2 linked regions of the Homo sapiens genome follow. The protein of the gene in region 1 purifies or fractionates together with the protein of each later gene. This does not show direct contact. Each region holds a gene or a part of one and is shown in the gene's direction. Other genes may lie near its edges. The genes, in order: DNHD1 and GCKR.

Evidence for each region.
Region 2: the proteins of DNHD1 (region 1) and GCKR purify together in Homo sapiens (affinity purification with mass spectrometry; one large-scale study listed by BioGRID and IntAct). This does not show direct contact.

The regions. Positions count from the first base shown.
Region 1 is NC_000011.10:6,541,975-6,545,789, forward strand, and holds part of DNHD1 (dynein heavy chain domain-containing protein 1), read left to right. Parts: intron 1-2,146; coding exon 2,147-2,272; intron 2,273-2,599; coding exon 2,600-2,697; intron 2,698-2,817; coding exon 2,818-3,815. UniProt on the Homo sapiens protein: Essential for the normal assembly and function of sperm flagella axonemes.
Region 2 is NC_000002.12:27,520,696-27,524,356, forward strand, and holds the end of GCKR (glucokinase regulatory protein), read left to right. Parts: intron 1-1,764; coding exon 1,765-1,899; intron 1,900-2,573; coding exon 2,574-2,744; 3' UTR 2,745-2,989; downstream 2,990-3,661. UniProt on the Homo sapiens protein: Regulates glucokinase (GCK) by forming an inactive complex with this enzyme. Acts by promoting GCK recruitment to the nucleus, possibly to provide a reserve of GCK that can be quickly released in the cytoplasm after a meal.

The DNA.
Region 1 (3,815 bases):
TAATATAGATGTTCCTTATTACCCAAATTCTTTATCCTTATCACCTCTTTATATCCAGTATTTGGTGAGGGGTGCCTTTTCCAGCCATTTGCAGCACATTGATAAATGGCACCCAGCCCCCTTGTTCACATCGCCCTTATTAAGGACTCTTAAGTTTTGGTGTGGACTGACACAAAGGCTGGATGTCTGCAGTTAACATTTGCACCAAGATTGAAAGGAGATTGTCTTCCCACTTTTGTCCTGAGCACATTTTATGCTAATCCATTTGCCCATCTCTGACCCTGGTTCCACACTTTGCCAGTCTGCTCCTACTTGATCTCTACCACTTTTCTGCCTCATCCTTAGATTTCTCTGCTACTAAAAGTAATAAATAAAAATTCGTAATACAAAGTAAAGGCTCTGGATAATGTGGGCCTTGGGATGCCTGTGGGCATAATTTCAGATACCAGCCTGGGTCCTACCAGTCTTTCCTGAGCTCACAGCCCTTCCTCCACCTTTGCTCCTTTTCAGTTTTCCCTTCTCTCTCTAAGCTAGCATTTGCACCAAGCACTTGTGTGGTTGAGGTTTCTCCCTATGGGTTCTCTCCTTTCTCTGTACCAGGCTTTCTTTTCCTGTTAACTCCGGGCATGTTAACCAAGGACCACATCTTTGTAGTGGCCACACACCATGAAGCTGGTGACTTCGTTCACCCAAATAAACCCCAAATGATGGACTTGTTATATATTTAATTCTTACCTCAAGAAGACAGGTTGTTACAGGATTGGGCACACCTACAAATTATTAATCTCCCCTTTAGATTCTTAACCAAATGAGGACAAGGATATATATGAAAATGAAAGTATACTATCAGAACCATCACCCCCAAGGAAGTTTGTGCTTTTTATGTATCATGTTGGCAGACACAGCTTGGATCTAGGTCAAGTGAGACTTCGTGCTACCTCGTCATAATCTTCCCCCAATTAATTGAGAACTTGAGGTCTGTGTGGATATGCAGAGAAAAGCTGAAGTACAGTTACACAGGTAGCTGTGTAGAGGACTGTGGCCTGCCTCATATCCCATAGAGCATAAAAGATGGGCCTCTTTGCCTCCTCACATGGGGAAGAGTAAGGGAAGAAGATAGACAGAGGGGCTGAAAGCATTAGTCCAGTGCTGTTTTCTCTAGAGAGTGGAGTAGAAGTTGTGTGACTCTGAGAGCAGGATAATGAGTTTTCTTCCCACCAGGGATGTTTGGAGAGTCCTACATGTGTCTGAATAAACCTCCTTTCTTGATTCTTCTCATTTTTACCCCAATTAGTGTCCCTACCTCATTTCCAGCCCTAGTCTTACCAAGCACTTGTGGCATGAAGGGATAACTCTTTAAGCAGCACCAGGGAGCCAAGCACTAAGACTATGAGAGAAAAGTTTGTTCTCAGCTTCTCTACCAAGACCCGTTTTAAGACAGAATGGGCATTCTTGCTATAGAAATATTACGTAGGGTCCTGGAGCCATTCAGCCCTCTTCCCGGGCTAGAGGCTCTAGTTCTTACAAAGCACTTCCATGGAGTTACGTGGATACTCATAGCAGCTAGTCAGGGAAATTAGCTGGCCTGGAGTCTGCCCACAGTGCCTTGGGAAAGGAGGAGCTTCTTCTCTCACCATTTTGAGACCCCAGTGCTTTACTGGCTCTACATATTGGCTGATGGAATCCTTAAAGGCAGAAAGGGCAGCTGGGCATGGTGGCTTACACCTGTAATCCTAGCACTTTGGGAGGCTGAGGTGGGTGGATCACCTGAGGTTGGGAGTTCGAGACCAGCCTGATGAACATGGTGAAACCCCGTCTCTACTAAACATACAAAAAATTAGCCGGACATGGTGGCACACACCTGTAATCCCAGCTACTCAGGAGGCTGAGGCAGGTGAATTGCTTGAACCCAGGAAGCATAGTACAGTGAGCTGAGATCGTGCCATTGCACTCTAGCCTGGGCAACAAAGCGAGACTCTGTCTCAAAAAAAAAAAAAAAAAAAAAAAAAAAGGGAAAGAAAAAGACAGAAAGGGCATCAGGGTCTCTGTAACTGCCTCTCCTGGAAGGTTCCCCTGGTCTCCTCTTCTCTCCCCCAGCCCCGGCCCTTGCCTCATCTGACTGCCAGTTCAGCTTTTTCTGTCTTAGATTACAGCAACCTGCAGGATTCCATCCAGGAAAGTCTTCAGGTGTTGTCCAAGATCTTGGCCATCGAAAAGTCAGGAGATTTAAACAAAATAGCTTTGGAGTGGGTGGCCATCATGCATGGCCTGGGTAAGTGCAGGCCTCTAGCCAGGCTGATGGGTGAGACCTGAGGCAGGATGTCCCAGAGGGATGGGGGTGAGAGGTGGAGGTTGGGTGGGAGAAGATATGAAGAACACAGTGAGGACCTCCTTCAGGGCTGTTTCTTGGGATGAAGAGATCAGGTTTTTATTCACAGTGAAAGTTTTTTCTCCCTCAAGCAAGTTCCCTGAGTCCTGCTGGGCAGAGTATTTTGCTTGGGCTGGTGGGGTACCTGAGAGGTCAGGAGCAGGGTGGACTCCCCTGCAGAAGGTAGAACCCTAGTGTTTCCCACCAGCATTCCTCTGGCTGCTTACACAGGTGCCCTGCTGGAGGTGTGGCTGACTTTCCAGCAGAAGTGGATTTTTCTGAATAAAGTTCTGCATGAGATGAAGATCCAGTTTCCTAATGCTGACCTGGTAGGGAAGGGGGTTGAGGCAGAGAGGGCAAGAAGGGTTCCTGAATAGCAGGGCTCAGCGTGGGAAAGGGGAGCTGCCACTTCATATTGGCCCTCACTTTTATCCTCTCCCTCACCACAGAACTCTCGTTTCAAGGTCATGGATGACCAGTATCGAACCCTGATGCGCATCTCTGTAGCTGACCCCATGGTTCTGTCACTTGTAGTGCCCAGTGCCGAGAGGAGCCCTTACTTCCAAGGCCAGCAGCTGCAACAACTGCTGCAAGCAGGATCGGTGGAGCTGGAGGGCATCATCATGAGTCTGGAGAGCGTGCTCTATGGGGTGTGTGCTCACTTCCCCCGCCTCTTCTTCCTTAGTGACAGTGAGCTGGTAGCCCTGCTGGCTGCTCGACTGGAATCATGCGAAGCCCAGCTATGGGTACGACGCTGCTTTCCTCATGTGCATGCTGTGAGCTTCAGGTCTTGCCCAACTGGTGAGAAAAACACAGATGACTGGGAGTCAAGCCCAAACACACAGACTCAGGTGGAGGCACTTGCAGTGCTAGGGGCAGGTGGGGAGGAGGTGAAGCTGCAGGGTCCCCTTCCTCTGCATCCAGATCTCCCTAAGTGGCTGGCCTCTCTGGAGAAGTGTCTGCGCTTGGCACTGGTGCACATGCTGCAGGGCTGTGTGGCTGCTCGCCTTGCTCGAGGCCCATCTCTAGGTGAGGCCCTCAAGCAACTGCCCAAGCAAAACAAGTTGTACCTGCAACTGTATGTCCAGCACTGGATCGACTTAGTCCAGGCCTTCCCATGGCAGTGTGTGCTGGTGGCAGAGGAGGTGGTATGGCGGGCCGAGATGGAGGAGGCTCTGCTTGAGTGGGGTACCCTGGCCATGGTCTCCATGCATATGCGCAAGCTTGAGGTACTGGTGAATTTTATGCGGGCCCAGAGGGCTTCCCAAGGTGGGCAGTCCCTGCCTTCTGTCCGCCAGACCAGCCTTCTCAGTGCCCTGCTGGTCATGGCAGTGACTCACCGGGATATAGCACAGCTGCTGGAACAGCACCAGGTCAGTGATCTCACAGACTTTCACTGGGTCCGCCAACTCAAGTATCACTTGGGTTCACCTCACATAATCCCCAA
Region 2 (3,661 bases), on another chromosome or scaffold:
GTAGGACTACATTTCTCTTTTTAGCATTGCAAATCTAGCACCCAAATTGAGGTGGGCTGGCTGGGCACGGTGGCTCACGCCTGTAATCCCAGCATTCTGGGAGGCCGAAGCAGGCAGATCACTTGAGGTCAGGAGTTCGAGACCAGCCTGGCCAACATGGTGAAACCCCGTCTCTACTAAAAATAAAAAAAATAAAAAAATAGCCGGGCATGTTGGCACAGGCCTATAGTCCTGTCTACTAGGGAGGCTGAGGCAGGAGAATAGCTTGAATCTGGGAGGTGGAGGTTTCAGTGAGCCAAGATAGTGCCACTGCACTCCAGCCTAGGTGACAGAGTGAGACTATCTCTCAAAAAATAAAATTAAAATTAAAAAAAGCCACAAAAAAACAAATTGAGGTGTGCTCTAGTTGCAAAATACACACTGGATTTCAAAATACAAAATCCGAATATAGAAAAATATTGCAAAATATCTGACTAATAATGTTTAATATTGTTTACATTGGGTTATATATTGGGTTAAATAAAATATATTATTAAAATTGATTTCAGGCCAGGTGTGGTGGCTTACACCTGTAATCCCAGCACTTTGGGAGGCCAAAGCGGGCAGATCACAAGGTCAGGAGAAATAGGTGAAATCACATTTTTTTTTTTTTTGAGATGGAGTCTCACTCTGTCACCCAGGCTGGAGTGCAGTGGCATGATCTCGGCTCACTGCAACCTCCACCTCCTGGGTTCAAGTGATCCTCCTGCCTCAGCCTCCTGAGTAGCTGGGATTACAGGCATGCGCCACCACACCCAGCTAATTTTTTTTTTTTTTTTTGTATTTTTAGTAGAGACGGGATTTCACCATATTGGCCAGGCTGGTCTCCAACTCCTGACCTTGTGATCCACCTGCCTCAGCCTCTCAAAGTGCTGGGATTACAGGTGTGAGCTGCTGTGCCTGGCCAATTTCACCTATTTCTTTTTTTAATGCAGCTACTGAAAACTTAAACTTACATATGTGGTTTGCATTATATTTTTTTCTTTATTTTTATTTTTTTTAGAGACAGGGTCTCACGCTGTTACCCAGGCTGGAGGGCAGTGCATTGGCACCATCCGGCTCACTACAGCCTCAAACTCCTGAGCTCAGGCAATCCTCCCACCTCAGCCTCCTGAGTAGCTGGGACGATAGGCAGGTGCCACCATGCCCAGCTAATTTGTTTTATTTTTTGTAGAGATGGGGTCTTGCTGTGTTGCCTAGGCTGGTCTCGAACTCCTGGGCTCAAGTAATCCTCCTGTTTTGACCTCCCAAAGTGCTGGGATTACAGGTGTGACCCACTGTGCCCAGCCTTGCATTATATTTCTACTGGACAATGCTGAGCTAGACAGAGAGGAGGGTAGTGACAAAATGGAAGCAGTGTTTGCAGATGAACAGTCTTACATTAGTGTGCAAGATGGATTTGGTTACAGAGGAAACTAGAGAGAGGGAGTCCAGATTACCAACCTACAGGATTGGTGGGACACACATGCAAATTTGAGCAATTTGCCATTAATCCTCCAGTTTAACCCAGCCAGTCAAGCCCACCACCAACCCCTTTAACCTAGTTTTTCTTTACACCTGGGAATTACAATTTAGGATTGCCAACATGGACAAATCATCTACAGCCTCTATAGCCAGGCCTCGGGATCCCAGCCTCTCACTCTCATAGTTTATTCTTCTCCCTTGACTCCATTCTTAGTTCCTCTGGCCTTTAGCCTGACACTGATCTTACCACTTCTTCCTTAGCGGTTCTCTGGACAGTCCAAGGCTCGATGCATCGAGAGCCTCCTCCGAGCGATCCACTTTCCCCAGCCACTGTCAGATGATATTCGGGCTGCTCCCATCTCCTGCCATGTCCAGGTTGCACATGAGAAGGAACAGGTATCCTGCCCACTGCTGGTCATTCAACAAATACTTTTTGAGTACTTTCAGTGTGTCAGGAAGTTTGTTCGGCACTGGGTTTACAAAGCTCAGTGGCACTCTGCTCACAAGGACCTCCACATTCATGGGGTCTTTGGACTGGGTTTTGAAGGATGAATAGGAGTTTTCCTGGTCAAAGTGAAGGTTTCTTTCTGCTCTTAATCCACCTTGTTACCACCTTCTAATCTTAATAACATCCTATTTGCATCTAACCTAGTGGCTCCTGATTCCTGTATCAAATGCTTTAACTCCTCCAGGGTTCTGTTTTTTTTTTTTTTTTGAGAGAGAGTCTTGCTCTGTCACCCAGGCTGCTGGAGTGCAGTGGCGCGATCTCGGCTCACTGCAACCTCTGCCCCCGGGTTCAAGAGATTCTCTTGCTTCAGCCTCCCAAATAGCTGGGATTACAGGTGCCAGCCACCAATGCCTGGCTAATTTTTGTATTTTTAGTAGAGATGGGGTTTCGCCATATTGGCCAGGCTTGTCTCAAACTCCTGAACTTAAGTGATCTGCCCACCTCGGCCTCCCAAAGTGCTGGGATTACAGGCGTGAGCCACTGCGCCCGACCTTCCTCCGGGGTTCTTTCTCTGATGACCTCATTCCCTCAGGCTTCAGTGCCCACTGCCTCTTCCCCACAGGTGATACCCATCGCCTTGCTGAGCCTCCTATTCCGGTGCTCGATCACTGAGGCTCAGGCACACCTGGCTGCAGCTCCTTCTGTCTGTGAGGCTGTCAGGAGTGCTCTTGCTGGGCCAGGTCAGAAGCGCACTGCGGACCCCCTCGAGATCCTAGAGCCTGACGTTCAGTGAACCCATGTTTCTGGGTGGGTGAAAGGGGCCCAACCCTGCCCACTTCAGCCCAGCCCGCCCAAGGGGACTTGTGCCAGCAGAACATGTGGGAGGAAGAAGCCCCGTTTCCAGGGCATCCGCAGCCCAGGGTAGGGAGAAATATTCTCTCCACTTTGGGGGAGAGTTCTTGCTCTCGACCTAGTGGTTTCTACTCTCACCGACTTATTCTGATTTCAGAAATAAAATGAAATGTCTTATTTTGGAAAGTTAACCTTTCAAAGTCAGTAAATCAAACAGTAGATCAGAGGTGGGATAGGATGGGTGGCATGGGTTGGTCTTAACAGCAGATTTGTTTCTTTAATTCTGTCCCCAACTCCATTTCATTGGTCCCTAACACAAGCCTTATACTGGCATCCCTATATTTTCATTACCAACATGCAGCCACGTGTGCATGCGTGCACACACACTCCAATCCCACACAGACACACAATGAGAGGTGGGAACTTTTAGATAATTCCAGGGGAAGAGGGAAGAAGTTGTGTACCTAACATAGGAAACCCAGAAAAAGGGCAGTCTTAATCAGACATGACAAGATCTAGAATGACTGCTACATCCACGCATTAGACCATGAAATGAGGGTCACATCCCCTGCCCCGTGTTTGTAAGAGGAACATAAGGAACTCTGGAGGTGCTGAAAGCCCTTGGTGGTGGGACCCAACAAACACTAGAAACCCCGGGCTGTACATTTTAGACATCAGCTACCCCATGTTTTGACAAATCAAAGACACCCTTGTTCATCCTAGATTCATGCCAGCTCTTTAGGGCCTGTGATATATGGCCCTGACAGTAGAGAGCTGGTTCCTCCTTGTGCCTGAGAAATATCCAGGTAATAGATACTCAGGAACATTCCTCTGGGGATGAAACTCTCTGGAAAGGTC